Linked DNA regions of Homo sapiens: all the other regions are reported to be linked to region 4. The links are microRNA targets in miRTarBase. Many come from high-throughput screens and were not tested one by one. Region 4 holds a microRNA gene; each other region holds the end of a gene's coding sequence.

What was found. Region 4 holds the annotated microRNA hsa-miR-3925-5p (AAGAGAACUGAAAGUGGAGCCU, at 1,639-1,660, shown strand). A microRNA usually pairs through its seed, bases 2 to 8, with sites in the 3' UTR of a target mRNA and lowers its output. Matches are read on the target gene's strand: a 7mer-m8 pairs with bases 2 to 8, a 7mer-A1 pairs with bases 2 to 7 and ends in A, and an 8mer does both.
Region 1: miRTarBase lists USP25 as a target of hsa-miR-3925-5p. Seed matches in the 3' UTR shown: 8mer at 2,252-2,259.
Region 2: the mRNA of G3BP1 is a reported target of hsa-miR-3925-5p. Seed matches in the 3' UTR shown: 7mer-m8 at 3,764-3,770 and 7mer-A1 at 1,695-1,701.
Region 3: miRTarBase lists GXYLT2 as a target of hsa-miR-3925-5p. Seed matches in the 3' UTR shown: 7mer-A1 at 873-879.
Region 5: the mRNA of RNASEL is a reported target of hsa-miR-3925-5p. Seed matches in the 3' UTR shown: 7mer-m8 at 4,008-4,014.

Annotation. Positions count from the first base shown.
Region 1 is chr21:15,877,188-15,883,861 of GRCh38, forward strand. It overlaps USP25 (ubiquitin specific peptidase 25), which reads left to right. Exons shown (of 26, transcript NM_001283041.3): 25 at 609-804; 26 at 1,116-2,877. The coding sequence ends at 1,288. Among named protein-coding and RNA genes, the nearest start is that of USP25, 150 kb to the left of the region's middle.
Region 2 is chr5:151,802,368-151,809,041 of GRCh38, reverse strand. G3BP1 (G3BP stress granule assembly factor 1) reads right to left here. Exons shown (of 12, transcript NM_005754.3): 12 at 1-5,157. The coding sequence ends at 4,951. Among named protein-coding and RNA genes, the nearest start is that of G3BP1, 34 kb to the right of the region's middle.
Region 3 is chr3:72,974,829-72,981,201 of GRCh38, forward strand. It overlaps GXYLT2 (glucoside xylosyltransferase 2), which reads left to right. Exons shown (of 7, transcript NM_001080393.2): 7 at 149-2,087. The coding sequence ends at 331. Among named protein-coding and RNA genes, the nearest start is that of PPP4R2, 19 kb to the right of the region's middle. RefSeq lists an enhancer at 2,574-2,643.
Region 4 is chr6:36,617,466-36,624,139 of GRCh38, reverse strand. MIR3925 (microRNA 3925) reads left to right here and starts at 1,628; the gene lies at 1,628-1,704.
Region 5 is chr1:182,569,706-182,576,379 of GRCh38, forward strand. RNASEL (ribonuclease L) reads right to left here. Exons shown (of 7, transcript NM_021133.4): 6 at 6,551-6,674; 7 at 3,929-5,873. The coding sequence ends at 5,687. Among named protein-coding and RNA genes, the nearest start is that of RNASEL, 16 kb to the right of the region's middle.

The DNA.
Region 1 (6,674 bases), not on the chromosome of region 4:
GCCCTTCACAGAAAAAGTTTGCCAATCCTTGTACCAAATTGTAAGCTCCATGAGAGTTTTCTGTATTAATCACTTGAGTGCCCCTGCATCTGCAGAAATTTCTGGCACGTGGTGTTGACTCTGTAGGAAGTTTTTGAAGGGAAAAGTGAATTGATTACCTTTATATTTCTGTATCAAGGAATACAATAGTATATATTCAGTTGCCATTAATGGAGATGAGTTTTTCAAAAATTAATATGGATTCTGAATTTCTTTATTTTTAAAACTATTTTGAGTGCTTATACAATTTTATAATTTGGGGAAGTTAATCTCTAGAGAAGAAAAAATGGCCCCTGTGTTGATGATCGGCATAAGCCAAACATGACTGAAAAACACAATAATGTTTTCTCCACCGCTGTTGCTTTTGTTTCTGTTGTTGCCATATGCATAGCTTTTTCTAAAGAGAGATTTTCAGTTCTAGATAGGTTGAGATTGTTTTCTCTAAATACCGTTTGTTCTAATACTGTTTGTGAACATATTTATGTTGTCTTCCTTATTAATACTTACAGATCCTTAATTTAAAAAGGAAACAAAAACCTATTCTTTTTTTTTTCCTGCATTGCATTAAGAAATTAAATGAGCAAGCCGCAGAACTCTTCGAATCTGGAGAGGATCGAGAAGTAAACAATGGTTTGATTATCATGAATGAGTTTATTGTCCCATTTTTGCCATTATTACTGGTGGATGAAATGGAAGAAAAGGATATACTAGCTGTAGAAGATATGAGAAATCGATGGTGTTCCTACCTTGGTCAAGAAATGGAACGTAAGTTTAAACAATGGTAGTAGGCACCTGAGATGTCCGGATTAAATGCAGTTAGAATTAGATGTTATTTATTCTTGCCATTTTTTATATTAAATACAATATTAAGTATTAATATTTTCACATTCACATGATTACTCTTTTTCCATATTGATGAACTAAGCTGTGTGCATTGCAGTTGCCATTTATGTTTTTGTCTCCCCAAAATGGCAATTATCTTACCTATTAGAGTAAGTTAATATTAGTAAATCATGTTGACAATGATCGTGTAATAATTTCTATCTTTAGTTAGATTTAATTGTTTGTATTTGCAGCACACCTCCAAGAAAAGCTGACAGATTTTTTGCCAAAACTGCTTGATTGTTCTATGGAGATTAAAAGTTTCCATGAGCCACCGAAGTTACCTTCATATTCCACGCATGAACTCTGTGAGCGATTTGCCCGAATCATGTTGTCCCTCAGTCGAACTCCTGCTGATGGAAGATAAACTGCACACTTTCCCTGAACACACTGTATAAACTCTTTTTAGTTCTTAACCCTTGCCTTCCTGTCACAGGGTTTGCTTGTTGCTGCTATAGTTTTTAACTTTTTTTTATTTTAATAACTGCAAAAGACAAAATGACTATACAGACTTTAGTCAGACTGCAGACAATAAAGCTGAAAATCGCATGGCGCTCAGACATTTTAACCGGAACTGATGTATAATCACAAATCTAATTGATTTTATTATGGCAAAACTATGCTTTTGCCACCTTCCTGTTGCAGTATTACTTTGCTTTTATCTTTTCTTTCTCAACAGCTTTCCATTCAGTCTGGATCCTTCCATGACTACAGCCATTTAAGTGTTCAGCACTGTGTACGATACATAATATTTGGTAGCTTGTAAATGAAATAAAGAATAAAGTTTTATTTATGGCTACCTATGTGTTTGTAAGCAGGTATATTGTATATTAGTGTATTAGTAATACTAGATAAATGAATTTTGTCTGGGGATTAAGATTGGATAGTTAATAGATTAATACAATCTTTTAATTCTGCTCTAATGCTAGCAAATTGGAAAATGTTTAAGTCTTTGACACTTAAATTTATCTATATTTTTAACAAAGTTCTTGAACTTAGTATGGCACCGGAACCTGTTTTGAATTCAGTCAGGTTTTTACTCAAGTAAGTGGTTGATTTTTTTTAAGTCAAACTACACTGAAACTTTTATCCTTTTCTTAGATTAATCTTACTTTTTAAATGTATTTACAATATACAGCAAGGTGATTATTTCAAGAGAATCCCAAAGTACTTGAATAAGGGCTATTGTAAAATTTAAAAGAAATATTTATATATACACATATATACACATACACACATGTATATATATATTCTTCATAATGGAGGACAATGTTTTGCAATATATAAATCATTCTATTTTTGTAAATTGTATATCACTTTAATTGAAAATGTTCTCTACTAATTAATACTGTGAAACAAAATTGATGTTGTTTAACTAGAAGTTATGAGTATCTTAACTGCCTTTATTCCTTTTCAAAAAGGAAAAAGCTGTAGAACATTTTGTAGATGAAACTACTGTTTAAGATTAATGAATTAATATTGTGAATGAAAATCAAAATCCATACTTTAAAGGTAATCATGTTACTAACAACCTATTTTTGAATTCATAAAAATTTCTTTATAAATGATGTTTTGTGAACATAGTAAAATAGACCATTATACTATGTGTATGTTTGATACAGCGTCGCCAAAACTAGTGTTCTTTATTAGTGCCTCTCACAAAAGATCCTGGATGGAGGAGTAAGATGAAATATTATGCTATTATATGATGCTGTTTGTAAAGGTATTAATGTACTAGTAAGGTGTTAATGACAAGGAATTAGTACTATTCCTGTTGTAAAGTTAGATTTTGCATATTGTATCTATCAAAATATGTTTGGGTTTAGATTTTAAGTTGTCTACTGAGCAGATTTCTGCATTGGTTTTCCAGTCCTGTTAAAAGTTTAGAAACTTCATATGTGTCATCACAGCTTTTGTAAAGAAAGTATCCTTAATATTTTATGACATTCTACCACAGTGGTAAAGTTGTTTGTGTTTGTGTATAATTGACTGCTGAGATACAAAGTGCCCAAACACTATATGGAAATTATTCCTTCAAAGTCACATCCAGAGAATCATGTCACTCTTGTGCTGAAGGTAAGTATTATAATTGTATTTACTATGTACTTAAAAACCAGATTATTTATTCCTAGTAATGAATTTGAAATAACTTATTTAAAGAAAAGTGACCTTTTTCAAGACCTACAGAAACAACTTATTTTAATATTGGTTTTTAATCTAATTGTAAGGTTTAGATCATTGAAATTTCTTTTTTTTTTTTTTTTTAAATTTCCAACTTTTAAGTTCAGGGGTCCATGTGCAGGACATGCAGGTTTCTTACAGAGGTACATGTGTGTCATGGTGGTTTGCTGCACAAATCATCCCATCACCCAGGTATTAACCCCAGCATCCACTAGCTATTCTAACTGATCCTCTTCCTCCTCCCAGCCCCCACCCTCTGCCAGACACCAGTGTGTGTTGTTCCTTCCACCATTGAGTCCAATATGTTCTTATCGTTTAGCTCCCGCTTATGAGAACATGCAGTAGTTGGTTTTCTGTTCCTATGTTAGTTTGTTCAGGATAATGATCTCCAGCTTCATCTGTGTCCCTGCAAAGGACATGATCCCATTCCTTTTTATGACTGCATAGTATTCCATGGCGTATATGTACGTTTTCTTTATCCAGTCTATCACTGACTGGCATTTAGGTTAGATTCCATGCCTTTGCTATTGTGAATAGTGCTGCAGTGAACATACACGTGCATGTTTTTATAAGAGAACAATTTGCATTCCTTTGAGCATATATCCAGTTACGGGTTTGCTGGCTCAAATGGTATTTCTCTCTTTAGGTCTTTGAGGAACCATCACAGTCTTTCACAATGGTTGAACTAATTTACACTTCCACCAACAGTGTAAAAGTGTTCCTTTTTCTCCATAACCTCGCTACCATCTGTTGTTTTTATGACTTTTAATAATAGCCATTCTGACTGGTGTGAGGTGGTGTCTCATTGTGGTTTTGATTTGCATTTCTCTAATGATCAGTGATACTGAGCTTTTTTTCATATACTTGTTGGCCTCATGTATGTCTTCTTTTGAGAAGTGTCTGTTCATGTCGTTTGCCCACTTTTTAATGGGTTTTCTTTTTTCTTGTCAATATCATAAGTTCTTTATAGATGCTGCATATGAGACCTTTGTCATATGCACAGATTGTAAAAATTGTCTCCCATTCTGTAGGTTGTCTTTTTTACTCTGTTGTTAGTTTTGCCATGCAGAAGTTCTTTAGTTTAATCAGATCCCGTGTGTCAGTTTTTGCTTTTGTTGCAATTGCTTTTGACACTTCGTCATGCAATCTTTGCCCATTCCTATGTCCTGAATGGTATTGCCTAGGTTTTCTTCTAGCGTTTTTATAGTTTTGAGTTTTAAATTTAAGTCTTTAATCCATCTTGAGTTGATTTTTGTATATGGTGTAAGGAAGGTGTCCAGTTTCAGTTTTCTGCATATGGCTAGTCAGTTCTCCTAGCACCATTTATTAAATAAGAAATATTTTTCCCATTATTTGTTTTTGTCAGGTTTGTAGAAGATCAGATGGCTATAGGTAGGTGTGTGGTCTTATTTCCGAGTTCTCTATTCTGTTCCATTGGTCTCTATGTGTCTGTTCTTGTAACAGCACCATGCTGTTTTGGTTACTGTTGCCTTGTACTGTAGTTTGAATTTGGGTAGTGTGATGCCTCCAGCTTTGTTCATTTTGCTTAGGATTGCCTTGGCTACTCAGGTTTGGTTTTTTGTTTCGTTTTGTTTTGTTTGGTTCCATATGAATTTTAAAAGTTTTTTCTAATTCTGTGAATAATGTTATTGGTAGTTTAATGGGAATAGCACTGAATCTATAAATTGCTTTGGGCAGTATGGATATTTCTACAATATTGATTCTTCCTATCCATGAGCATGAATTTTATTTTCCATTTGTTTGTGTCCTCTCTGATTTCCTTGAGCAGTGGTTTATAGTTCTTGAAGAGCTCCTTCACGTCCCTTATTAGCTGTATTCCTAGGTATTGTATTCTTTTTGTGGCAGTTGCGAATGGGAGTTCACTTGTGATTTGACTCTTGGCTTGCCTGTTTTTGGTGTATGGGAATGCTAGCACTTAGTGCACATTGATTTTGTATCCTGAGATTTTGTTGAAGTTGCTTATCAGCTTAAGAAGCTTTTGGGCTGAGATGGGATTTTCTAGATACAGGATCATGTCATCTGCAGACAAAGATAGTTTGATTTCCGTCTTCCTATTTGAATACCTTTATTTATTTCTCTTGCCTGATTGCTCTTGTCAGAGCTTCCAATACTATGGGGAATAAGAGTGGTGAGAGAGACAGCCTTGTCTTTTACAGGTTTTCAAGGGAAGTGCTTTCAGCTTTTGCCCATTCAATGTGATGCTGGCTGAGGGTTTGTCATAGGTGGCTTTTATTATTTTGCAGTATGTTCATTTAATACCTAGTTTATTGAGAATTTTTAACATGAAGTGATATTGAATTTTATCAGAGGCCTTTTCCACATCTATTGAGGTAATCATGTGGTTTTCGTCTGTAGTTCTGTTTATGCAATGAATCTCATTTATTGATTTTTGTATGTTGAACCAACCTTGTATCCCAGGAATGAAGCCTACTTGATCGTGGTGGATAAGCTTTTTGATGTGCTACTGTATTCAGTTTGCCAGTATTTTGTTTAGGATTTTTGCATCAGTGTTCATCAGGGATATTGGCCTGAAGTTTTTGTTGTTGTTGTTGACGTTGTATGTCTGCTAGGTTTTGGTATCAGGCTGATGCTGCCCTCATAGAATGAGTTAGGGAGGAGTCCCTCCTTTTCAATCTTTTGAAATCGTTTCAGGAGCAGTGATAGCAACTGACCCTTCTTTGTACCTCTGGTGGAATTCATCTGGGAATCTGCCTGGTCTTGGACTTTCCTTGGTTGGTAGGCTGTTACTACTGCCTTAGTTTCAGAACTCATTATTGGTCTGTTCAGGGATTCAATTTCTTCCTGTTTCAGCCTTGAGAGGGTGTATATGTCCAGGAATGTATGATTTTTTTCTAGATTTTCTAATTTATGTGAATAGAGGTGTTCATAATATTATCTGACTTGTCTTTCTATGGGGTTAGTGGTAAGAGCCCACTTATTTCTGATTGTGTTTATTTGAATCTTCTCTCTTTTCTTCATTAGTCTAGTGGTCTCCTAGTGGCTCACGCCTGTAATCCCAGCACTTTGGGAGGCCAAGGCGGGTAGATCACGAGGTCAGGAGATTGAGATCATCCTGGCTAACACAGTGAAGCCCTGTCTCTACTAAAAATACAAAAAAAAAAAAAAAAAAATTAGCCGGGCATGGTGGCGGGTGCCTGTAATCCCAGCTACTCGGGAGGCTGAGGCGGGAGAACGGCATGAACTCGGGAGGCAGAGCTTGCAGTGAGCTGGGATCGTGCCACTGCACTCCAGTCTGGGTGACAGAGCGAGACTCTGTCTCAAAAAAAAAAAAAAATTAGCTCCTGGATTGTGTGATTTTGATTTTTTTTTGAAGGGCTTTTTTTTGGGGGGGTCTCTATCTTTAGTTCAGCTCTGATATTGGTTATTTCTTGTTTTCTGCTAAGCTTTGGGGTTTGTTTGCCCTTGGTTTTCTAGTTACTTTAGTTGGGATATTAGGTTGTTGAGATCTTTCCAGCTTTTTGATATTGTCATTTAGTGCTATAAATTTCCCTCTTAACACTGCTTTAGCTGTGTCCCAGAGATGCTGGTAT
Region 2 (6,674 bases), not on the chromosome of region 4:
CCACATCTGGCTCACTTTTCAATTATCTGTAGAGACAGGGTCTTGCTATGTTGCCCAAGCTGGTCTCAAATTCCTGGCCTCGAGCAATCCTCTGGCCTCAGCCTCCCACAGCACTGGGATTACAGGCATGAGCCACCCCACCCCACCCCAAAGTGATTTTAACTTCAGCAATAGTTAAAACTGTTTCTATCCAGGTTAAACAGGATTTAATCTTCCATCTAATTACTATCAAAAATATAGGCAACCTTCCCCAAAAGTGGGCTTCTGAAAATAAATACTTGGTTCAGTAAATCAATAATTTCTGGTAAACATCCTTAATTTACTTAAAAAAATCCTAAGACACACTGTATGCACACTGTACCTTACAAATCTGGGACACTGGCCACATTTCAAAATACTACACTTAGGAATTTCTGTAATTGGCCAAGTCACATGATTTATTAAAGGAATAGTTGAACAGATTCCCTATATTATTTTCCTCTTACAGGGAATTAAAATAAGCTACTAGGTTCAAGTAGAAACTGTGGAGAGAAGACGAATCCAATGTTTTCAAACAAGTCACATAAACAGAAACTAAAAACCTAATTGCAAGCCAACACATATGCATAATCAAAAACCAAAACTGGTTAAGGGTTTTAGGTAATCTGTAATCATCTTTTTACTCATTTAGGCCTTGATTTGAGACATGAAAGCATGAACAAGGCAGTTTAATTTCAGTGTTGTACTGAGGTGATATCTATCCACTAATAAGAATGTAAATATAAACAAGTTTTATCTCACATGTGCCACCATCTCTCCTTTACTATAGTCTGTTAAGAGTTGACAGGCCCACCTATGGTCCCCAGAATCTCAACATTAAACAAATATAAATCCCAAAAGGCATTACTACCTTAGAACCAGAAATTCTTAGTTATCATCTTGTGCCACACGGCCATTACTTGATCAGCAACTTTAACTTAACCCCTCATCCCACATAAGACATTGCTAATTTTTTTTTGGTACATTAGGCAGTTAGCTAAAACCTGATATTCAAATAAATGCTGATGTTACTTCAAGTTTAAAAACTGCTGAACTAAAAAGGTCAACAATTATCTATATGCAGCATTGCAAAGATTCCTTTAAGTAGCACAAAAAGAAAACTGCAATATAAAAAACATCTTTATAGATTTGACAAATGCAACCATTTAAAAGAAATGTCACTCAGCATAAACAGTGGTCTACAAATCTAAGCTCTTCAAAAAGGTTACCTGTAAGTTCTAAAATGGCCTTCTATAAAGTGCAACATTTTCCATTAAATCGTTAAATTCTACAAGGGTTTTTCAAATAGAGGGATGAAGAAAAGTATCAGAAGGTGACAGTTTATAAGCACAAAACACAAATTCTATAAACTCACCTGGATTATACTATAATAAAAATATTATTATTCACATCCAGATTTGAAGTTTGCATTAAATTATCAAACCTGATGAGAAAAAACTTAAAAACAAACCACCATTATTGTGTTACCATATATAATCTGCAAATCAAAAAAAGACTCACAAAACCCAAGTTTAATTATCTTGTTTGCCCTAAAGGAAATTAAGAACTGTAATGTTAACCTTGTTCTGAATGTATTCCAGACTCAAGTCTCCCTACAGTAGGAAGTTCATTGCGGTCTATGCTACTGAAATGTAATTAGGGGGGCATTATGGTTCTAGAGAAAAAGCATCAGTTTGGGAGGCAAATGTGCTCCTTGCTACATGGATGACTTGGAAGCCTGTCATTTAACTGTTCTGATTCAGTTTCTTCCTCATCTATTGTGCTGAGGACAATATCACCTAACCCGCAGCACAGATGTGAAAATTAACTTTTCTAACCTAAAGTGCAATTCAACTAACACTGTGGTAATGACATACTCAACCAAAGTCAAATTATTATTTTTGGATTATCTATCTCACTGGTCCCTAGCAATATCTGACAAAGTTGAGAACGCTGGAATACACAAAGTAAAACCCAACCTCACCACTAAAACAAAAATACAGTTTAAGGCCCAAGATGTCTAATTACAAATTAACAGGTCTTAAAAAACTAAGACCCACTGAACCAAACAAATCTTATCTAACTAAAATACTCATGAGGCCAGGTGCAATGGTGCACACCTGTAGTTCCGGCTACTTGGAAGGCAGGAGAACTGATGAGGCCAGGAGCTTGAGACCAGCCTGACAACATAGCAAGACCTTGCCTCTATAAAAATAAAAATTTAAAAAAAAAATCTCATGGGTCAAGAGTTCTAAGCTCAGTAGCTAATAACTATACATTGGGCCATTCCTACGGATGAAAATTTTCATTTTAAAATCTGAAAATGTTCAATGTGATGAGCTCCTACTGCTGCCACCTATAGAAAATGTTGCCCTAACTTATAATGATTTTCCAGCAGTGGAAACGTATACATCTCTAAGCTCTCAGGTTTACTCTACATGCAATAATGTACATAATTGTACAAGGATTCTCAACAGTTCTGATCATGATGCTAATCCTATTTCTTAGGTCCAATACTATCATTCAAAACCTCACAATCATCCCAACTCTGATGACAGAAAGCACTGGGGAAGCTTTCTATTTTCTGAGATTGTGCAGTAATTCCCTGCAACAAATTACAAGCAGCATCAGTATGTATTGCTACCACCTCTCCACATTTACACCAACATACACAACACACACATACATTTGGTACAAATAATAAAAAGTGAAATTACTAATTCCTTAGAGTAGATGTTACTGCAATTCTTGAAACAGATTTCCATTTCCTAGTTTGTTATTTATCTGAGGCTGAGTTTCAAAAGAATGAGTCTTCATTCCAGTTTTCCTAATCCCACAGCTCCACCCACCCACAGGAATAGGGACTATCAGTGTTCTCAATGGGGTTGCTTCATTTTTACACAACATTTGGTATCCTTAGACCCCACCCAATAAATGCCAGATGCATGTCTCTCCAACAACCCTTCCAAATTTCACACATTTCCAAATGTCCTCTAGTATGTGATAACACCAAGCTGAGGATTGCTGCATCTAGTTAATGCCCTTAAGTCTCCAAGTAGGAAGAACTTCTGTTTTGAAATGTATAATTTAGTATTCACTCATGAAGGATAATTTCTAGGCTATCCATAATTTATGACCTTGAAGTTACCACAAAGTAATTTTTTTTTCCAAAGTGACTCAGACTAAACTTTTCTTTCCACCCACCACATGCTTAATATAAGCTACAAAAGTATAAGTTGTATTTCTTCCTATTATCAGTGATCTGGGCCAAAAGTGGTTACCAAAGTTACTTTAACCCTACAAAAAAGCCATGTGATTCAGTTACATTAAGTTTATGTAAAGGAGATGCTGCCAATTTTCAAATATTTGAGGAACTGGAACCAAACTGGTAATACCAACTTCACTGTGGTCTTAACCATCACAGCAAACCTAGAGTTTCTCAGTAATGCAAACCAAATATTCCTATGCTATCCTCAAACGACAGTCCTAAAGATGAATACTGTTAAGAAAATAAATACGCTGAATTTTACAACCTGGTTGCCCTTCAATTAGTAATGACAATCACACAAAAGTTTGTTTCACACGTGTAAACAAAACCTTCACCCATCTCACACACAGCACTCAACAAATAACACATATGTGAAACGAGTATTAGTCTATATTGCCAGATTAAATTTTCTTCCAGAAATATTTTAATAAAAATTGGCCATTTCCAAGTAACACCCACTGCATGCCCATCAATAAAAGAGAACCATAACAAAATAGAAAATTTACCATATGGCTATGATTTTAAGAAAAAAAAAAATGCGGACACGAGCACATGAGCAAAGTCCAATATTAAAGTAACATTCCTTCTTACGGGCTATGATTAGGAATCTGATTAGATACCAGAATAAAAATACAAATGCTGAACTATTTAGGTCAAAGAACCTCTATAGAAGCATCTGTCTTCAAAGGCATTCCAGTTTGAGACTCAATTTTAGAATAAGGCATAACAAATATGTTAACAAAAGACATACACAAAGTGATGAAAGAGGGATTCTATAATTCCCCACATACTCTGAACCTAATAAAACAAATCTAGATTTTTTTTTTAAACAATTGCCAAGACTGAAATCAAAGATAAATAGAAGGCACAACAGTTTTGCTCTGGTTGTTATCTGGGTTTTGGGAATTTTTTTGCTTTTTGTTTTTTTACAAATACAAATTAAACATGAAAAAACTACTTCAAAAAAACTAACAGTTCAAGAAAAGCCTATCAGTTGCATTCTAGACATTTAAAACCTATTATCACAATTTAAATTTCAATGGTAAAAACAGTTAGGTTTTAGAATTGTTTTGTGATCCTTTATCAAAAAAAAATTCTATTCCTTTTATTCAGTTTTTAAACATACCAGTGAGAATCAAAATTGTCAAATTTTCCAATGGCAATTTCTCCACACCAGAAGGTAGTCATGACTCTCAAAGAAGAAACAATTTGGGTTTTTCCTGCCTTCAAAATATTATCAAATCCTGTATTTCTTACAGGCTTTTCAAACACGTAGAAAATAAGAAATATTCCAATGAATGAAACATACCAAATGTCAGTAATATGCAAGACATTCCTTTGGGGAAATGGCTGTAAAAAAAAAAAAAAAATCCAGTCTGTATATGCAAAGTAAGCAAGGAAATTCAGTCTTTTTTTTTGCTTCTTTAAAAGTCCGTTATTCCTAAAATATCATTCCACAAAATTGGAAGTGAAAGACTAAAGGTCAGGAAAGGGAAGAGAGGGAGAGGGAGCACACACCATTAACACACAAAAAAAGTAAAATTATACAAACTTAAGCAGTTTATAACAGACTGGGGTCATACTCCAAGATACCAAAGGCTGTCGAAAATTCACCATTCTGTTGGAACCAGGGTTTGTATGGCTGCATGAAGATCCATGAAGATTCACTGCCGTGGCGCAAGCCCCCTTCCCACTCCAAATCCTGGTTTCTGCACCATGCCTCCACGGGGAGGGCCTCTCATTCCACCACCCAGCCCACCTCGAGGGCCTCCAGGTCCCCGAAGGCGATTATCTCGTCGGTCGCCTTCCCTGGCAGCTCGAGTCTTCTTCTCTTCGACATTCAGACGGACCTCACCTCTGAACATGATGGGCTGTAAGAATCAAGGTGACCAGACTTAAGAGTACTGATGAGCTGGCTATCACTATCAAAGATAAAGAAAGCTGTAATAATGAACCAGCAGAGGCTGGGCACGGTGACTCATGCCTGTAATCCCAGCACTTTGGGAGGCCGAGACGGGTGGATTACGAGGTCAGGAGTTCAAGACCAGCCTGACCAACATGGTGAAACCCCGTCTCTACTAAAAAAACACAAAAATTAGCCAGACATGGTGACACACGCCTGTAGTTCCAGCTATTCAAGGAGGCTGAGGCAGGAGAATTGCTTGAACCCAGGAGGCGGAGGTTGCAGTGAGCCAAGATCACGCCATTGTACTCCAGTCTGGGAAAAAGAGCGAGACTCCGACTCAGAAAAAAAAAAGAACCAGCAGATTATAAATCAGCTAAGTTCTCACAGTTCAGTTTTTTGTTTGTTTTTTTAATGAGACAGAGTTTCACTCGTCACCCAGACTGGAGTGCAACTTGAACCCGGGTGGCGGAAGTTGTGGTGAGCCAAGGTCGTGCCACTGCACTCCAGCATGGGCGACAGAGTGAGACTCCGTCCCAATAAAAAATAAAAAATAAAAAAAATTGCCACCTTCTCCATAGATTTGGAGGCTTAGAATAAAACCTCATCATCACCAGTGTGAAAAGATGGTACTGTACATATTTATGCAAAGTACATATACATTTAAAATAAAAACTTCATTAATTTGACATAAACTTTAATTTGCTCTTTAACACCTCCTGAGAATTTTGGATAGTCTTGGCCTTCGTTTCCTCCTAACAGAGCCAAAGTAGTTAAGGGGCTACGAAACATTTCAATATATTCAATTTATGCTCTTCACCAGCAATGTAATTTTCTAATTTCTTAAAATGAGTATCTAAGAGTACTTACTATGTGTCGCGGAAGTGTTCTATTCAAATTTATTTATTTATTTATTTTTTGAGATGGAGTCTCGCTCTGCTGCCCAGGCTGGAGTGCAGTGGCGCGATCTCGGCTCACTGCAAGCTCCGCCTCCCAGATTCACGCCATTCTCCTGCCTCAGTCTCCCGAGTAGCTGGGACTACAGGCGTCCGCCACCACACCCAGCTAATTTTTTGTATTTTTAGTAGAGACGGGGTTTCACCGTGTTAGCCAGGATGGTCTCAATCTCCTGACCTCGTGATCCGCCCGCCTCGGCCTCCCAAAGTGCTGGGATTACAGGCGTGAGCCACTGTGCCCAGCTCTATTCAAATTTATTAGCTCACTTAACCTTTACAACAACCCTCTGATGGTAGATACCTACTTTAAGGACTAGCAAACTAAGGGCCGGGGAGGTTAAGTAACTTGTCCCATGGGTCACAACACTAATGAGTGATGAAAGGAGAATACAAACCAAGGCCTCCAGGGAAAAATAAGCTTTGAAACGGTAAGCTACACTACAGTATGTCATACACCACGGCAATCAGTCTTACATAAGCTATTTCTGCTCACACAAAAAATTAGTGAAGGGAGCATAGTAGACTTCTA
Region 3 (6,373 bases), not on the chromosome of region 4:
TTAAGTTAGATCCTCAAAGGTCTTTTCACTTGTCCAAACCTGTGCCTGTGGGCTTATCGTAATTCCTGTGTCATTTCTTAGTAAAAATGATCTGCATTTAAAATGGCATTTCCGTTACTAAATAAACTTTTTTTTTGTCATCTTTCAGTTTCCCTTTCAAGACAATCTCTTTCAATCCATGTATTACCCCCTTCAGCTGAAGTTTTTGGAGACTGTGCACACTTTATGTGGACGAATCCCGCAAGTTTTTCTGAAGCAAATTGAGAAAACAATGAAAAGGGCTTATGAGAAACACGTCATCATCCATGTTGGCCCCAACCAGATGCACTGAATATTTTGTCTTGTTGCAAGTCAATTAGGTGTCTTGTGACCAAGGAAATACTAATCTCTAAGCTGCCTGGGTCTTTTTGTGTGAATATTTAATGGTGCTCCATGACTGTTGAGTTTTAAAAACCTCGTTAAATTTTGCCAAATCAGTTGCCCCCAAAAGGGAATATGCTTTTCCTTATTTTTTTTTCTAAAATGCTATTTATCTCTAAGGAAAAAAAAAAAAGACTATTACTCATTTAACATTGTTTAAGCAGGTTGAGCTAGCTGTGAAAATAGCTTTTGTGAGCCTTCTAATTCCTAAACGTCTGAGACCATTTCAGTGGCACCTGAGGTGTTATATTGATCTAGCATTCCTGAGACTCTTTCTATGCAACTGACTCCCCCACACCCGTGTTATAAAAGTAATACACACTTTTGAAACAGAGAGACACACTTGTAGAGCATATGGGTCAAGGGCTCAACATCAAGATTAGATTAGCCATAATCCTATTGACCAGTGGAAAAGATTGTTTCCATTTTAAAGCAGTTCCTTACAACCTTTTTTCTCTACTTTTGCATTTTCCACTCTAACACACATCTAAAACAGGTAATCTCAGTAAAAGCTGGCCTTTTTGCTGAGATTTTTATGTGGGAGACTAAAATATTAGATGAGATGATTATGTGTACAGAATTTTATTTAAAATACATCTGAGAGAATCATTCAGATACTTGGGTAGTGTTAAAGGATGAAGCATGTATCTGGGGGTATTTCTTCTTTTTCTTTCTTTCTTTTTTTTTTTTTTTTTTTTTTTGAGACGGAATCTCACTCTGTAGCCCAGGCTAGAATGCAGTGGCAGGATCTCGGCTCACTGCAGCTTCCACCTCCTGGGTTCAAGTGATTCTCATGCCTCAGCCTCCCCAGTAGCTGGGATTACAAGTGTGTGCCACCACACCCGGCTAATTTTTGTATTTTTAGTAGAGACACGGTTTTACCATGTTGGCCAGGCTGGTCTTGATCTCCAGACCTCAAGTGATCTGCCTGCCTCAGCCTCCCAAAGTGCTGGGATTACAAGTGTGAGCCACTGCACTCAGCCAATCTGGGAGTATTTCTAAAGAAAAAAATTACTTTGATTTGTGGAGGACTAAATCATAATACATTTCTATGCAACAATAGCTTCTGAGAGGAAATTCAGGAATGTTTGTGTTTACCACAGACAAAAACATTTGATCTGTTAATCATCAGTAGCTGTGGTCATCTCTCTTTCTTAAACTCTTGGGCAATGGGTGGAAATCAGAGACCAACTTCAAATTTAATGTGTAAAAAACAAATAGTTCAGCTGCTTCTATTGGTAAGAAAATTCAACTTCCTACCAGCCTTAGAAAGGTCTCTTTAAACAATTTCTTTCCCCCTAGGGTTACCTAGCTGGTCCATACAGGTTTTATCACCTCACTGCAAGGAGGAAGTTGAATATTCTGTTCCCCACGGGGATCTGGCTTAATCCCTAGTTGCTCATATAGTTGGTATCAGCATAGCAATATTTTGCATAATGCTTTATTTTTCTCAAATGACTATTGCATAGATGATCTTGATATTTGCAACAGCCTAGTGGATTTGGTAGGGTCCTGAATCATCTCTATAAGGCAAACAAGGAAATTGTAACACAAAGAAATAAACATATTGAATATAATTGCTATTCTGTAAGACATACAGTCTGTGTAAGATGTATCTTATTTACAGAGACATTTTTGAAAATTAAAATATTAAATACTTTTTGTTATATAGAGACAATGATCTGGAAGTATAAAAAGAAAAATATTATCTTGTTGATGTAAATATGATATCCTTATATATATTAGAATCCAATAAGATATCATGGGCGCAATATTAGCAAAAAAAAGTCAGTCTTACCCTGAAAAAAAAATAGATATGAAAATCTCAGCACTACACAGAAATGTTTAGATGTCAATCAGTTTTGGTATGCAGCATTATTATAGTAGTAACAAATTTAAATCTAAAATTTTAGAGTAATACTTTCCTTCTGATCAGTTGCCCTGTGGTTATTTTTGTTAAGGAAACTACCATTATGACGGGAAACTCTTATTTTTGCTGTTATATTTTGTTTCCTTATTTCACCACTAGAGGTGACATCATTATTTTGTAACTTTAGTACTAGGCTTTCCATTTGTGGTATGGACACGTATGATATGGAGCAATTTTTGAATTGTCTTTCACATAGGGGAAATTGCATCTTATATACCCATAAATTGGGTTTTAGTGAAAGAGCCAGGATGGAACATAATTTCCTAACTTCCATCCTAGTTTCCTTTCTACTTGTTCAGAATGGCCAGTGAAACACACAAATGGCACTCAGATTTGTTGATGGCTCACCAACTCAAAGAGGTTCCTTCTCTCCTTTGATAAGTCCCACAAAAACATCTACTGTAAAGACTTGAAATACAATGCCTTTCTTTTTTATGAGAGCCAAGTTTACCCACAACTCTCAACTACCAGTACTGGTCTGACTGTGCAGAAAAGGGTTGCCCGCAAAGGTCAATGATATCACCCTAGAACATTCTAGAATGATGAATTTTGAGAATGTGAAACCTTAGAACCTCGTGCGGTTGTCTGCCTTGGAATTCCTGTGCTGTATCCTGAAATTTTAGCTGAATTTGGCAGAGAATTCAGAGAAAATTTGCTTTTCTAATCCTTGCTGCCTGAAAGTGCTAATTATTTTCCATAGCTAGGATATTACCATGGAGCAATATTTTCTCTGCCTTTGATAACTCCCAGCAAATTACTACATTAACCGCCTTTGAAATCCAGGAGCCACAAATTTTAATTCAGTGGCCTGCTAAAACATGCACTCTCTGGTTTAAAGTTTGCCAGAGGTGGTGCTGCCCCATATGCCACATTGAATACTGGGAAGGGCCGGGCACGGTGGCTCACGCCTGTAATCCCAGCACTTTGGGAGGCCGAGGCGGGCGGATCACGAGGTCAGCAGATCAAGACCATCCTTTCGAACACGGTGAAACCCAGTATCTACTAAAAATACAAAAAATTAGCCGGGCGTGGTGGCGCCTGTGGTCCCAGCTACTCGCGAGGCTGAGGCAGGAGAATGGCGTGAACCCGGGAGGCGGAGCTTGCAGGGAGCCGAGATTGCGCCCCTGCACTCCAGCCTGGGCGACAGAGCGAGACTCCGTCTCAAAAAAAAAAAAAGAATACTGGGAAGAAGGTGGGCCAGTTCTCTCCTCTCCTCCTGCCCTGCCTTTTCTCTCTTCCCTCTCTTTTCTTCTTTACTCATTTCTTTTTAATTTCTGTTTAATGCATATAACTATGGACTTCCATTAAAGAAGAAAAGAGCACTTTCTGATAGCAAAAGGTGACAGTATTTTTATATGCATCGAGATTGAGGTTTTTCAACAGCAGTGTCACTGGAAATGCTGCCAATATTTTTCTTGCTGAGTGTTTCTCCAATATAAATCTCAGTAATCATGGCTTACATTGAAAATTCTAATATTTAAACAATTAACTGGCTAGAAAAGCAATTTAAGTTTTTCTTCAACTTCCAAAATGGCAATTTAGCACTTTGGATACAAAGCTCCAAGCTTTACTATTTATGGGATATGTCTAGTTCATATTCAGTGCTTCCATTGCAAATTATTGTGACTTTTACCAAATTTGGTATTGAAATGGGTATTTATATGGACTCAGACGTTTGAGAGTATTTCTTTTATTTGCAGTTATGGTGTTCATGAGCAAAAACAAATAAACCAAATCATACAAAACATTATTATTCACAGTGATTGAAAACAAAATAATGATCCAGTAACAAAATAATCACTCGCAGCCCAGCCTGAAAGCAGGACATTCATACAAATTTAGATTCATGTATAAATATTATCTGATATTTATACATTATTATCTGATATTTATACGTATAAAAGATAAATTACATGTGTTTGATAAACCAACATGAACATGATTTCATCACTGAAATCAGAAATATGTTGAGTTCTATGACAGCACAAATCATATTTCCTTTCTTTCTTTCTTTTTTTTTTTTTTTTTTTTTTTTTTTTTTGAGATGGAGTCTCGCTCTGTCACCCAGCCTGGAGTGCAGTGGTACGATCTCGGCTCACTGCAAGCTCCACCTCCCGGGTTCACGCCATTCTCCTGCTTCAGCCTCCCGAGTAGCTGGGACCACAGGCGCCACCACGCCCAGCTAATTTTTTGTATTTTTAGTAGAGAAGGGGTTTCACCGTGTTAGCCAGGATGGTCTTGATCTCCCGACCTCGTGATCCGCCCGCCTCGGCCTCCCAAAGTGCTGGGATTACAGGCGTGAGCCACTGCGCCCGGCCTCTTTTCTTTCTTTCTTTTTCTTTCTTTCTTACTCTTGCTCTCTTGCTCTCTCTTTCTCTCACTCTCTTTCTCTCTCTCTCTTTCTCTCTTTCCCTCCCTCCCTCTCTCTCTCTCTCTTTATTTCCTAAGCAAGCTAACACAGGACATATTCTCTCTTTTTTTTTTTTTTTTGAGATGGAGTCTCCGTCTGTCACCTAGGCTGGAGTGCAGTGGCACAATCTCAGCTCACTGCAGCCTCCGCCTCCCAGGTTCAAACGATTCTCATGCCTCAGGCTTCCGAGTAGCTGGGACTACAGGTGTGCACCACCATGCCCAGCTAATTTTTGAATGTTTAGTAGAGATGGGATTTCACCATGTTGGCCAGGCTGGTCTCAAACTCCTGAGCTCAAGTGATCCACCTGCCTTGGCCTCCCAAAGTACTGGGACTACAGGCATGAGCCACTGTGCCCAGCTGACATATTCTCACTTAATAGAATTATAGAGAAATTTTTCATGTTTTTCTTTTTCTCTCCCACTTTTTCATATTCCTCTTTTTCATTTTTGCCTTTCCGTTTCTGTCTATGATGTAGGCTTCTGAGGAGAACCAAGAAGCTTGGCTTTAGTGGTAGAATGACAGAACTTAGGGATCCCTTGCAGGCTAGAACAAAGTTCTGACCCTTAGACCAAATCTTTATGTTAAGAGTTTTCCAGAATTCAAAAAAAAAAAAAAAATCAATCAACACAACACACACACACATACATACACACACACTGCCTTTAAAAGGAGGAGCCAATATTTGTTGTACCTGTGAACTGAGGAATTATAGATAAACCTTAGGTCAAATCATTTCACAATTGCATTGGTGGTATTGAAAAATGATGAGATTTCTCTGACAGAGAGCTTTGTCCTAGTTTTTGTTCTTCATAGGTCAAAACTGGCAATATTCTCTTGTCTGCAAGATAAAGTGTTTGTGCTTCTATCACCATATGCATGAACATGTAAGAATCAGATACAATTTCTGCTTCATCAGTTTCACATGTTCATGTTGTCACTGAAAAAATGCATCTACTGTTTATAGCTCCCAAGGAGACCCCAAATCCTTTTTTTTTCTTTTGAGATGGAGTCTTGCTCTTGTTGCCCAGGCTGGAGAGCAGTAGCGCGATCTCAGCTCACTGCAACCCCCACCTCCTGGGTTCAAGTGATTCTCCTGCCTCAGCCTCCCCAGTAGCTGGGATTTACAGGTGCCCGCTACCATGCCTGGCTAATTTTTGTATTTTTAGTAGAGACAGGCTTTCACCATGTTGGCCAGGCTGATCTCAAACTCCTGACCTCAGGTGATCCACCCACCTCGGCCTCCGAAAGTGCTGGGATTACAGGAGTGAGCCACCGCGCCTGGCCCCGTATTCATTTTTTATACTGGAAAACATTTTTTTTGTAATTTTTCTTTGCAAAGAAATGAGCATAAAAATGAATACTCCAAAGAAAAGGAATTATTATGGCAAATTAAAAGGGACACGGTACTATGATTTAATTACTGTCTTGTCTTTTTAAAATGTCATCTCTTGTTTTACCCTTTTTTTAAATAAAAGCTTTAAAAACATGTCTTTGGGTATTATTCTGGAGGTATGTTTCTTTTATATAAGATTTCAAGTTTAAACATTTACAATAAGTAATAATATTTAAATTCTTATAACAAGTAATGAAATATTTGGTTTAGTAATTAG
Region 4 (6,674 bases):
CCAGCCTCTCTGGCGACACCTGAGCCTGCTGCTTCTCCCCTTCCGCCTCCCGCCACAGTCATACACACAGCCACTCATGCATACTCACATCACACCACACTCCAACCAGCACTCCCCACGCTGCCAGTCACACATAGTTACACACATACAATCACATATATGTTCCCATATAGACACATTCACACTCATACTTTCACACATGCACACGCATGTGCACACACAGTCACTCATTTCTGTGTTGGAGATTGGGTGAGGACATTCAATGGGTGAGGACCAACAGGTGTGAAGATTGCTTTCTAGAAAATGACGCCTGTCTCTCTTTGCCATTCTTCCCAATCCAATGGAGCTACTAGGCTTTTCCCTCATTTCATGTTTAATAAACAAGCCGCTCTTGCGGAACGATGGTTGGATCCCTCATCAACCACCACACACTCCCGACCCCACCCTCCTTCCTGCCCCTGCCAGCAAACCTGACAGGTCCAAGGCCTGGAATTGAGAACCTGTTTTCTTCCCCATCCTGCCCCCTTGTGACGGGAGCCTAGAACTGCTGGCTCTGCGCCCAGAGGTTAACCACATTTCTCAGGAAGGTTCCAGTAGCCAGGCGGGTTGTTAGGAGAGGTCTGTATCCAACTCCCCTCCTCCTGCAGAGGGGCAAACTAACTAAATGAAGATCCACTCTTCCTTCACCCCGATCCTCAGGGCCACCAGAAGAGCTGACTGCTGTTTCACAGGCACACTCCACTGGCACAGGAGATGGGTGGGTGTGCCAACTGGACCAGCATATGGCAGGACCCTTATGATGATCAAGCCTACAGTCATCATACAATCACAGGATTGTTGCCCTATATCCATATTTTCTTGACACCCTAATAGTGCATTTGGCTAAACCTTGGTGAAATAGGCATGACAGCATGTGACTGTGCCGCCTCTGACACTGACCACCCAGGCCTTTCTCTTCACTCCTTCCCTGAGGCCTTGGAGGGTCTGCCTGTGGCCTTTAGTCTGGTGTTTGAGCTCACAGAACTGGGTGTGGTTGACCCTCCCTTTGTCCTCACCCCCTCCACACACACACAGGGATGCTCTTGCAGGCTCCTGGTTTGATGAGGCAGCCCAGGATGTGTCCCCACCTTTCCTCTTTGAGCCCAGGGCCAGTGTATTTCAGGCCGAGTGATTTCACCCAGGGTCTTGTTTCCATTCCATTTTATTTTTAGTCCTCAGGTGCAGTGGGATGAGTCCCTCCTATTCCCCAGGTGATGGCTGGCTGTCATCATTGGTCCTGACTAGTCACCTCTTGCTTCATGTATTCCCCCCTCACTCCATTGTCATTTCCATGCCCCCACCCCACAGGCAGCCATTCTACTATATCCTTTATTTGTATGTGTTCTTGTGCAGTGCTTTGTAGGCATGGATTTTGGTACTGCAAAGTGCTGCATTGTACACATAGTATTGCATAGTGTTGCCTTATTACCATTTCTGTAACAAACTGAATGTGTTACTTTATGTTGGAGCGTGGTGGAGCCTTAAGAATTTATTGAGAATCTCTGCATTAATGATTATGAAAGTGACTGCAAGTTTTCGCTGAGTCTTATTTCCTGAACATAAACTCAGGATCCTGGACCATGGTCATGTGGGAATAGCAAGAGAACTGAAAGTGGAGCCTGTCACATCTCCAGACTCCAGTTTTAGTTCTCTTGCTATTTCCACCACATCTTTCATCACTTCCTCCACTAAAGTCTTGAACTCCTCAAAGCCATCCACGTGGGCTGGAATCAACTTCTTGATGATGGATGAAGCCACTTCCTTGTGGCTGGAACCAACTTCTGTGTTTCCTAAAATGGGGACAGCAATAGTACCTACTCTCTAAAATTTGTTGTGGGCTAGGTGCGGTGGCTCACGCCTGTAATCCCAGCACTTTGGGAGGCCGAGGCAGGCAGATCATGAAATCAGGAGATCGAGACCATCCTAGCTAACATGGTGAGACCCTGTCTCTACTAAAAATACAAAAAATTAGCCGGGTGTGGTGGCGGGCGCCTGTAATCCCAGCTACTCGGGAGGCGGAGGCAGGAGAATCACTTGAACCTGGGAGGTGGAGGCTGCAGTGAGCCAAAATCACGCCACTGCACTCCAGCCTGGGCGACAGAGGGAGACTCCGTCTCAAACAAAAAAGAAAATATTTTTTGTGAAGATCAAATGGGTTAATACAAGTGAAGAGTGCCTGGCACTACTAGTGCTCAGTAAACATTGTTTATGGATGCTTTCTTTTTTTTTTTTATTAGGCCTTATAATAGCCCTATGAGGTAATATAATTAGTTCCATTTCACTGATGAAGAGACCAAGGTCCAGGGAACAAAACAACTTGCCCAGGTTTGCATCATGATACTGCCAGAAGCTAAATCTAGATCTTCAGACCCCAAGACGGCCACAGGACCTCGATCCCCATGTGTTCCCTAGAGGTGTTGTGCAGAACCTTCCTGATGCTGATCTGGATGACGAGCGGTCACCCACAGGCTGCTGGAGATGATTCCTGGTCGGGTGGCCCTCAGTCCTCCTTGATCTTTCTCCCACACTGTGATCTTCACACCCACTGGCCATTCCTGAGAAAGAACCTGCCTTCTCCAGGGCTTTTGTGGGTGCCCATGTTCACCAAGCAGCCTCTAAAGTGATGTGAATCCTAGCGCCAGGCCTGGTAGTAGCACATATGCATGGTAGATGCGTGCTGGAAAAGCAGGAGCCCTAGGAGCCTGCCTTGGGTTCTAGTCCTAGCCATCCATTGCCTCACCCTAGGGTCTAACTTTCTATCTCTAACCTTCAGTTTCCACATCTGCACAATGGGGATAGGAACTTTTCTGTGAGGATCAAGTAGGTTTTAGGAGACTATTCCAATCTTGATCAAATACTAACAGTCGCCTGAACCCTGCAGAACAATCCCTGCTTGTTGTACAGTCTGATGCCACCTCAGATGAACCATTACCCACTGTATGCACTGAACATTTTCCCCTCCCCTCCAGGAAGATCATCCTCTGGATCTGCCCTCCTCACAACGGCCTTATTGCTTTTCTGGAGTCACCGAATCTTAGAATATCGGTGCTGGAAAAGAACTTGAGGACCATCAGTCCCAGTGTGGCAAACTTATCTCCTTATCAAGGACCCCCGCTGCCTAAAGCAGTGGTTGACTCAGTCATTGCTCCCCTCACTGCAGGGTGCAGTGTGAAGAGGGGACAGATCATCCTGTGAGTTACAGGCCACCTTCAGCCCAAATACCCCCTTTCTACAGATAGGCAAACTGAGTAAATGATGATCCCAACTTCCTTCACCTGACCCTCGCCTCAGGGCTACCAGGAGATAGGGACGCCATGTTGGCACAGGAGATGGGTGGGTATGCCACCTTCCCCATGGGCAGGCCCCTATTGCGGTCACATCTCAAGTGACTACTTACAACCATCAAACAATTAGGGTTTACTGGTGGATGTCTTTATCTTTTTGACATTCTGTAGAATTATGCTAACAGATTTTGGAAAACAATTTGCCCAAAATCTACGTGACTTCATCCTTTGATTTTTGTTTGTTTGTTTGAGACAGGGTCTTGCCCTTCACTCAGGCTGGAGTGCAGTGGCGCCATCACAGCTCACTGCAGCCTTGACCTTCCAGGCTCAAGTGATTCTTGTGCCTCAGCCTTCCAAGCGGCTGGGATTACAAGCGTGCACCACCACGCAGCTTTTTTGTTTTTTTGGTTTTTTTTTTGAGATGGAGTCTTGCTCTGTCACCCAGGCTGGAGCGCATTGGCGTGATCTCGGCTCACTGCAACCTCTGCCTCCCGGGTTCAAGCGATTCTCCTGCCTCAGCCTCCCAAGTAGCTGGGACGACAGGTGCGTGCCACCACACCCAGCTAATTTTTGTATTTTTAGTAGAGACGGGGTTTCACCATATTGGTCAGGCTGGTCTTGAACTCCTGACCTCATGATCTGTCCTCCTCAGCCTCCCAAAGTGCTGGGATTACAGGCATGAGCCACCGCACCCAGCCATGCCTGGCTAATTTTTGTATTTTTAGCAGAGACAGGGTTTCGCCATGTTGGCCAGGCTGGTCTCGAATGTCTGGCCTCAAGTGATCTGCCTGCCTCGGCCTCCCAAAGTGCTGGGATTACAGACGTGAGCCACCACACCTGGCCTTAATTTTTGTATTTTTTGTAAAAATGCAGTTTTGCCATGTTGCCAGGGTGACTTCACCCATTTTCAATGCAGAATTTTAACACAAGAGTGTACTTTAGCCAGTGAAATGTGCACGCTTACTTCTTTTAGGAAAAAACTGAAATATTTGCTGGGAACCCCACAACAGTTGCCACAGGAAAGACCAGAAGAAAGCAAAAACAGGTAAGGAGCATCCTTTAAAGTGAGGGGAGGCCGGGCTCATGCCTATAATCCCAGCACTTTGGGAGGCCAAGGCGGGCAGATCACTTGAGGCTAGGAGTTCGAGACCAGCCTTTAGCAACATAGCCAAACCCTGTCTCTAATAAAAATACAAAAATTAGCCGAGCATGGTGGCACGCACCTGTAATCTCAGCTTATTGGGAAGCTGAGGCAGGAGAATCACTTGAACTCAGGAGGCAGAGGTTGCAGTGAGCCAAGATCGCACCACTGCACTCCAGCCTGGGTGACAGAGCAAGACCTTGTCTCAAAAAAAAAAAAAAAAATGTGAAGGGAAAGCCCACAATGATAGCACTTTCATGCTGGCAAGCCCACGGATGGTGCATACTCAGTGTCTCTGGGGGAGCAAAACTCAGGAGCCGACAGCCCTCACCTAGTCAGGTGGTTTATTCACAAACTGTCCACTCCCAGGACTTCAGGATGGGGCAAGTCACAAAGCAGGATGTTTTCAGTGGGGAATGTTTAAGTCCTTCAAGGAAAATACCGTATCATGAGCTTTTCAGGGACAGGTATCTGTGACCCACCTGTGTGCAATGCCTCTGTGGTCCTGATATTCTGGTGCTGGGCTTGGACTCAAGCTGTGGGTTTCAACCCAGCTTAACCTTATCTGCATGACCTTGGGGAAGGCACTTCCTCTTTCTGGAATTCAATTGTCTCGTTTGCAAAGTGGGACCATGATATCATCTCTACAAAACCCTCTAAACACAAATGAAGAAACTTCCCATACCAAGCACCCAGAATAAAGAAAAAGGCTAGAAAAACCAGAAGCTATTGAATCACTTTTTTCCCTTTTTTTGCTTATATGTGCTAATTTTTCTACCATGGTCATGGGTTACCTTTGAATTATTATAAAAGTGAGTAATTAAAGGGGGTGGAGCAGAGCTGATGTGAAGGAAAACGCTGAGCTTGGCAACTTTCAGGGCCTCCTCTGTGCCAGGCACAGTTGCTGATGCTTCACCTATGTGACCTCATCTCTTTGTCCCAACAAGCCTGAAAGGGAGGCATTATGGCTCCTACTTCCAGCTGGGGAGACTGAGGTTCCCGAAGGAGTCAAGCCCTCACTATCATGAGAGCCTGTGGTGATGGTGATGTACCAGGAAGGCGCATACAGATGTGTGGCAGCAGCAGCAAGGTGAGCACTGCAACTCTGAGAAAGCGGAGCCTCCCCCCTTTCTTGAGACACTGCCTCAGAGCCTCTGAGAAAAGCCTTCCCCACTGGTGATACGCCACGAACCTGCTCCTGGGGGACCTGCTCTGGATTCTTTTAAGATCAAAAAAGTTTATTATTAAATAGCAGCATCGTGTCCAGTCAGAAAAGCTTAAGTGTATGAACGTCCTTTTTTATTTTATTTTTTTTGAGACAGAGTCTCCGTCTGTCTCCCAGGCTGGAGTGCAGTGGCGTGATCTTAGTTAACTGCAAGCTCCGCCTCCCGGGTTCACGCCATTATCCTGCCTCAGCCTCCCGAGTACTGGGACTACAGGCGCCCACCACCACGCCCGGCTAATTTTTTGTATTTTTAGTAGAGGCAGGTTTTCACCATGTTAGCCAAGATGGTCTCGATCTCCTGACCTCTCGTGATCCGCCCACCTTGGCCTCCCAAAGTGCTGGGATTACAGGCATGAGCCACCACGCCCAGCCTGAATGTACTTTTAAAACATGTTTCTGCTGCTGGGCGCGGTGGTTCACGCCTGTAATCTCAGCACTTTGGGAGGCCAAGGTGGGTGGATCACTTGAAGTCAGGAGTTCGAGACCAGCCCGGGCAACATGTCAAAACCCTCTCTACTAAAAATACAAAAATTGGGCGTGGTGGCACATGCCTGTAGTCCCAGCTACTTGAGAGACTAAGGCAGGAGGATCACTTGAACCCAGGAGGCAGAGGTGAGCCGAGATTGCGCCACTGCACTCCAGCCTGGGCAACAGAGCAAGACTCTGTCTCAAAAACAAAAACACATGTTTCTGCATAAAAGCATTGTTTGTATGCCATATTCTCCTTCTATTGAGTAGCAACACAATTCATCCTCTAAACAAAAAATGCTAATTATACTTTGCTAAAACATATCTCCAAATATGGATTTAATAAAATGCTTTTCTCAAAAAAGAAAATAAAAAGGGTCCTGCCATTTATAAGTAGATTGCTTCTTTCAAAAGGCAAATGCCAATAAATGACACTTCATCCTGGAGATGTGTAGTCCACCTGTTCTGTGCCCCTGAGCCACCACCTGTTGCCAATGTGTCTGCAGCCAACAGGGCT
Region 5 (6,674 bases), not on the chromosome of region 4:
GTTATTTTCTTCCTACACTCATTCAATAATCATTTCTCATTGCAAGGCCTTTAATACTATCATTAGATGACTCACGAATTTCTCCCCAGCCAATCTCCCTGAACTCCTGATCCACACATCTAACCCTATATGACATCTCCACTTAAACGTCTATTAGAAATATCACTTTTGTCATGTCCCAAATGAAACTCTTGGTCTTCCCTCTAAACCTGCTCCTCTGGAAGCCTTTCCACCTCCATTTAATAGCAGCCCTACTCCTCCAGTCACTCAAGGCCAAAATGCTGACAATTGTCCTGGACTCGTCTCTCTCACACCATATCTCACTCTGTCAGTAAATCCTGTTGGCTCTACCTTCAAAATACATCCCCAGTCTGCCTGCCCACTTGAAGTCAACCTCACTGCCGTCACCCAGCATCGGCTACTAAAGTCTTTGCACAAACTATTTAATAGTCTCCTAACTGATCTTCCTGTTTTTACTCTTGCCCTCTGCTTTCTGTTCACAGAGGACCCAGAGTGATTCTTTTAAGTGTTAAGCTACATCATGCCACTCCTCTGCCCACAGTCCACTGAGGGCTTCCCATCTCAGTAAAAACCCAAACCCTTCCATGTGCTTTGGGGCCCTCCCTCCCTGGTTCCCTGACCCCTCTGTCTTCCCTTCTTCTTGCTGGTCTTTGCTCACTCTGTATGGCAACCATGCTTTTGTGCTCCTCAAACAGCTCAGGTATGAACAGGCCCCAGGGCCTCTGAACTGACTATCCGTCCCCTCTGTTTGCTTTCCCTCAGATACCTCCACAGCTTGCTCTTTTGCTTCCTTGCAGTTTCACTTGGTAGGCTCCCTCTTGATGCGGTCCACCTGACCCCCGTCTTTAAATTTAATCTACTTTCCCTAACTACCAACTCTTACCTTGCTTAACTTTCTTCCTGCTTACTATTACCCTCTAGTATACTCTGTCCTTATGGATGTTGGTTTTCTTCCCCACCCTGCTCCCACCTCATGAGGACAGGGATTTTGGTCTTATTTGTTCACTGACTTATGGAGCGTAACTTCCTACTTCCTGGTCTGCTGAACAGCTGAGGCATTAACATGAAAGACACATAATCTTCTACCTTGTCTGAGTCACAGTCATTTGGTCCCTGTTAAAAGAGCTAAACAAAGTCTTCGCTAATTATTCAGTTTCACAAAATGTATTTTTTAAAAGACTTGATTCTCAAGAAGAATGTTCAGTGAGCAGAAAGTGAAATTCTCTGTGTTTATGTCTCTCATTGCTTTGGGTTCACTCCTGCTGTGGACATCAAATCACTTCAAGATTCGTGGGTTAAATTTTTATAGGCCAATATTAGTGGCTAACATAGTAATGTTATGTTATTATTTTTGAATAAATATTATTAATAAATAATATTAAATATAAATATTATCAACATAGACTCCTGTTGATGGTGTTCTACAGCCTCAAAAAATCCAATTACTTTGCTTTTTCCCCACCCACTTCTCTCCTCTTGTTAGTACCATCTTTGGGTCTTGTTGGGAACAGGCCCCCCAAAATCTGGCCATAAACTGGCCCCCAAATTGGCCATAAACAAAATCTCTGCAGCACTGTGACATGTTCATGGTGGCCATGATGCCCGCACTGGAAGGTTTTGGGTTTACTGGAATGAGGGCAAGGAATACCTGGCCCACCCAGGGTGGAAAACTGCTTAAAGGCGTTCTTAAATCACAAACAATATCATGAGCGATCTGTGCCTTAAGGACATGCTCCTGCTGCAGATAACTAGCCAGAGCCCATTCCTTTATTTCAGCCCATCCCTTTATTTCCCATAAGGAATACTTTTAGTTAATCCATAATCTATAGAAACAATGCTTATCACTGGCTTGTGTTCATAAATACATGGGTAAATCTCTGTTCAGGGCTCTCAGCTCTGCAGGCTGTGAGACCCCTGATTTCCCACTCCACACCTCTATATTTCTGTGTGTGTGTCTTTAATTCCTCTAGCGCCATGGGGTTAGGGTCTCCCCGACCGAGCTGGTCTTGGCAGGCTCTTTTGTTTGTTTGTTTTTGAGACAGAGTCTGGCTCTGTTGCCCCGGCTGGAGTGCAGTGGCCTGATCTCTGCGCACTGCAACCTCTGCCTCCCAGGCTCAAGCTATCCTCTCATCTCAGCCTCCCAAGTAGCTGGGACCACAGGCACATGCCGCCAGATCTGGCTAATTTTTTTTTTTTTTTCATTTTTAGTAGAGACAGGGTTTCACCTTGTTGCCCAGGCTTTTCTTGAACTCCTGATCTCAAGTGGTCTGCCTACCTCAGCCTCCCAAAATGCAGGGACTACAGATGTAAGCCACCATGCCTGGCCCATCTTTTGGTCTTAGTCTAAGCAAATAGGCCATAAAGCAATGAAAAGTTTACACAAATGAAAAACACTGTGGAAGTGATGAAAAAACATTCCTTTTAAAAAAAAAAATATGGCCGGGTGCTGAGGCTCATGCCTGTAATCCCAGCACTTTGGGAGGCCGAGGCAGGTGGATCACGAGGTCAGGAGATCGAGACCATCCTGGCTAACATGGTAAAACCCTGTCTCTACTAAAAATACAAAAAAATTAGCCAGGCTTGGTGGCAGGTGCCTGTAGTCCCAGCTGCTGGGGAGGCTGAGGCAGGAGAATGGTGTGAACCTGGGAGGTGGAGCTTGCAGTAAGCTGAGATTGCACCACTGCACTCCAGCCTGGGCGACAGAGCGAGACTCCATCTCAAAAAAAAAAAAAAAAAAAATCTGTTCATGTGATAGGAGAAGACCAGAGGAGCATAAACATTTGCTGCAAGCCTATGGTGATTGTCTTAGTCACTTTTGTCTCTTGGGGTCCTGGTGAAGACTCTCATTGTGGCTTGCAGATGGACACTTTCTTTCTGTGTGCTCATAAGGCAGTGAGAAAGGAGAGCTCTTTCTGTCTTCTTATGAGGTCATTAATCCCAACATGAGGGCCCTATCCTCATGACCTCATCCAACACTAATTACCTCTCAAAGACCCCCATCTTCAAATACTAACACATTGGGGGGTTAGGGCTTCAATGTATGAACTTGGGAGGGACACAATTCACTATATAGCAGTAATTAAGAACAGCAACAAGTAAAACTGGGTGCATAGTACATGCCAGGCACTGTACTAGGCACTTAGGCAAGCCTAAGAGAAAATCTCCACAGAAAGGAAAAAGGAAAGCTGAATTTCCCAGGGTCTCCTCCAGAGGAAGGTTGTGCTGTTCTTTACCCAAATCATCTTGAAAGCCCACTGTGTCCTAAAGCTTGTGGGGTAGAGAACGGAAGAGCTGCCCAGGGGTCGGCTCCAAGACTTACCTCTCTCCCAGGCTGCAGCTCCAGCAAAGACCCACCAAAAATCAAATGTTAAAGGTTCTTCTCAACCAGTGAATTCAAGGAGTATCTTATAACTTAAATACACTACACACTTATAACACACCAGGCACCAAGTGAGGAAATGGGATATGATCTCTGCCCTCCCAGGCTTATTGGAGAGACAGGTAAATGCCACCAACTGCTGAGTAAAGCACACAGGGATAGAGCTTTTACCCCTGAGCAAGAGTACAGAATCAGCCTGCCTAATACAGGACCTGATATGAACCACATGCTCAATGAAATGTTTGTGACGATGACAACTGAATGAGAAATGTTTGCAGAATGTCAACAGAAACTCTCAGAGAATTCAAGCAGACGGAAAAATGATCATTTCCTCCCTTCTCTCACTACATACTAGGCCCACATTATTCCAGAATTACTAGAAAGTCAAAAATAACTCCTTTTCCCATTTTCAGACAGCAGGATGACCTTTCTTAAAACTTATCCAGGAATTACTTAGTGAATATTTTCTATTGTAGATATCACCCACTCCTTAAAGTGGAAATGTCACTTAAAGAAAATCAGACTAAATAAGACAATTTAAAGTTTTATTGAGTAAGCTTCACAAATGGGCATTTTAATTGACATGTCCAGGTGCTCATTACAAATCAGAGAACCAAAGCTTCATTTTAAAAGTTAAAGCAATCTTGCTGCTCATAAAGTATTTTTTAAGCCTTAAATTTGTTCCTAATCAACATTTAATTTCATTCAGTGGTATCTATTTATCCATTGCTAGATACCTCCTTTTCAGAAAGAACCTAAGGTACTGTTTTATTCCCATTACAAAGCTCCATCTCAACCACCACAATGATTCATGGAAAGAACATCAGACTTAGCACCAGAAAATTTGTTCAAATCAAGATAGTAACACTTCCTAGCTATACGTCCTAGAGGAAATCAAAATGTTTCTAACCTTAGTTTCCTCATCAGCAAAATAGGGATAACAATGTTGACCTTAAAGGATTGTTTTGAAAATTAAATAAAATAAAATACTCAGATGTAATGTATACATTATAAAGCACCAGAAAAACGTAAGACAGTATTATTATTCATGTACGAAGATGGTTCATTCATTATTCAATGAATATTTATTAAACATTCCCACTTGGCAGACTTTTTGCTTGGCAGTGAAGATACAAAGTCAAGAAAAGACAGCCATCGCCCGTGAGGAGCCTACATTCCAGTGGAGGAACCAAAACTAAAAGGCGGAGGAAAGCTCTGGGTGCTTGGGAGCCAGAAGGAGCTCCTAGACTGGGTATGGGAAGTGAGGGAGGCCTGGGAGCCTCCTGTGGGGCTGACACCAGAAGGAACTCCATCACTACAGATCCAGCAAGAGTAAATAAATCTGAGTCCCTCCTCTGTGGGGTGGTCCACACACTCCACAGTCCTGGGCCTTAAGCTAGTTCAAAAGCATCCCAGCCCCTTAAGTCAGGTTTTCTCAACCTCAGCACCATTGATATTTTTGTCTGGATAATTCTTTGTTGCAGGGGCTGTCCTGTGCAAGGCAGGTTTGGCAGCATCCCTGGTCTTTACCCACTAAATGCCATAGCATGCTCCCCACAAAGCTGTGACACCAAAAACTTCTTCAGACTCTGCCAAATGCTCTCTTCAGTGCAAAATTGCCCCCCAGTTGAGAACTACTGCCTTAAGGTCATGGAAAACCAATGCAGTTGGTTCTGGAAGGAGTGGAATTCATGCATCCAGTGCCCAGACTTATACTAGATGCTCAATAAATACTGAATGAATGAATGAGATTCCTGGAACCCCTATATATGTTTTGGGCCTCATCTGGAAGAGCCCTGGAAGGATAGTTAAGTTTTAAGGTGCCCAAATGAGAGGTACCAATAACACCACATAAATTTATAAAGTGCTAGGTATAAATTGAATAATCTTGGGCCAGTAGCTCACACTCTCTGAGTCTCAGGTTCCTCAGTTCTTAAATGGGGATGATAATCCCTGTTTTGCAAGATCATTGGGAAAATTAAGTGAGAGAATTGTAACATATGCAGCATTAGGGGTCAAGGCACTCATTCTTTTGGTGCAATTGACAAAAGGAATCTTAGCAGAATGTCCTCCCAGTTAGTGGGTAAAGCTTATGGACTAGTGTAGTCTGGGTATATATTGCTTTTGTTATAGACATATGGAATACACGATGCCAGGGACTGACATATCAGCTATGCAACTCATCCCTCACAAGCAACCTGGTGAGTTAAAAGGCCCAGAATGTTGTGATTTGCCAAGGACTCTACAGCTAATAAGTAGTTCCCTGAACTCCAGCAAATCAGTCCATCAGCACCCAGGGCTGGCCAACCCACTGGCCCCACCAGCTCCATCACACTGAGGCTTGTTTGGACTGTGGGTTTGGGGGAAATGCTTTCTATATTCTGTGTTCTGTAGTTTTGTGTAGACATAGATCACCAGATCTGGAAATGTCTTCTGAAAATACAGGGAAGGGTCTCCAATTTTTAATTTCATCCTGAAATAAAACACAAATTGTTCAGCATGCTTGCCCCAAATTATTCTTCCCCGCTTCACAGCATATGGCCCTGAAGATCTCTTTGCTCGCTTGATTTCTATTGCAGAATGAATAAGGACTTTGGAATCTGACAGAGCAAGACTCCTCCCCTGACTCTTCAACTAATTGTGCAACCTTTGGCCACAATCTTTCTGAACTTTAGATTGTTCTTTCATAAAATGGAAATAGTGCAATGCCACAATCCTCTACCTACAATTCCAAAATCCAGAAGAGCCCTGAACTGCAAGGCTTTTTTGTGAGTTTGCAACTAACATCTTTGTCAGCAAAAGCTGATCTAACTAATGTGGGCTATTTTTAGACGTATATAACTCTACCTTCACTTTATCTAGCTGTCCAGTCTCCTGTGTTACTTCACAGAAGGGAGTCACTAGCTCCTGTTCAATTTGTTTTACCATTTATCCAACAAAAAAATGACAAGGAAGATGAAAGCCTGCTGGACATGTCCCTCATTAATTGTAAGGCAACAGTGATAGCCCTTTTACACACAGAGGGAAGGAATTACTTTTCTTTCATCAAAATAAATTTTCTTTTTTCCATCGTAGATATAAACTTAGAATTGGATTTTTTAAATTGTTCTCATTTCACATATAATTTGTAGGAATGAAAACAATACTTACTTTTTATGCTTTTCTTCATCAATGTGTTCTCCCAAATTCCGGATGAACTTTAGCAGATCACCCACAGTGTTCTGGTAGAAATTGCCTCTTTTTTCATAAAACTTATTCATTTTTTTCATAACAC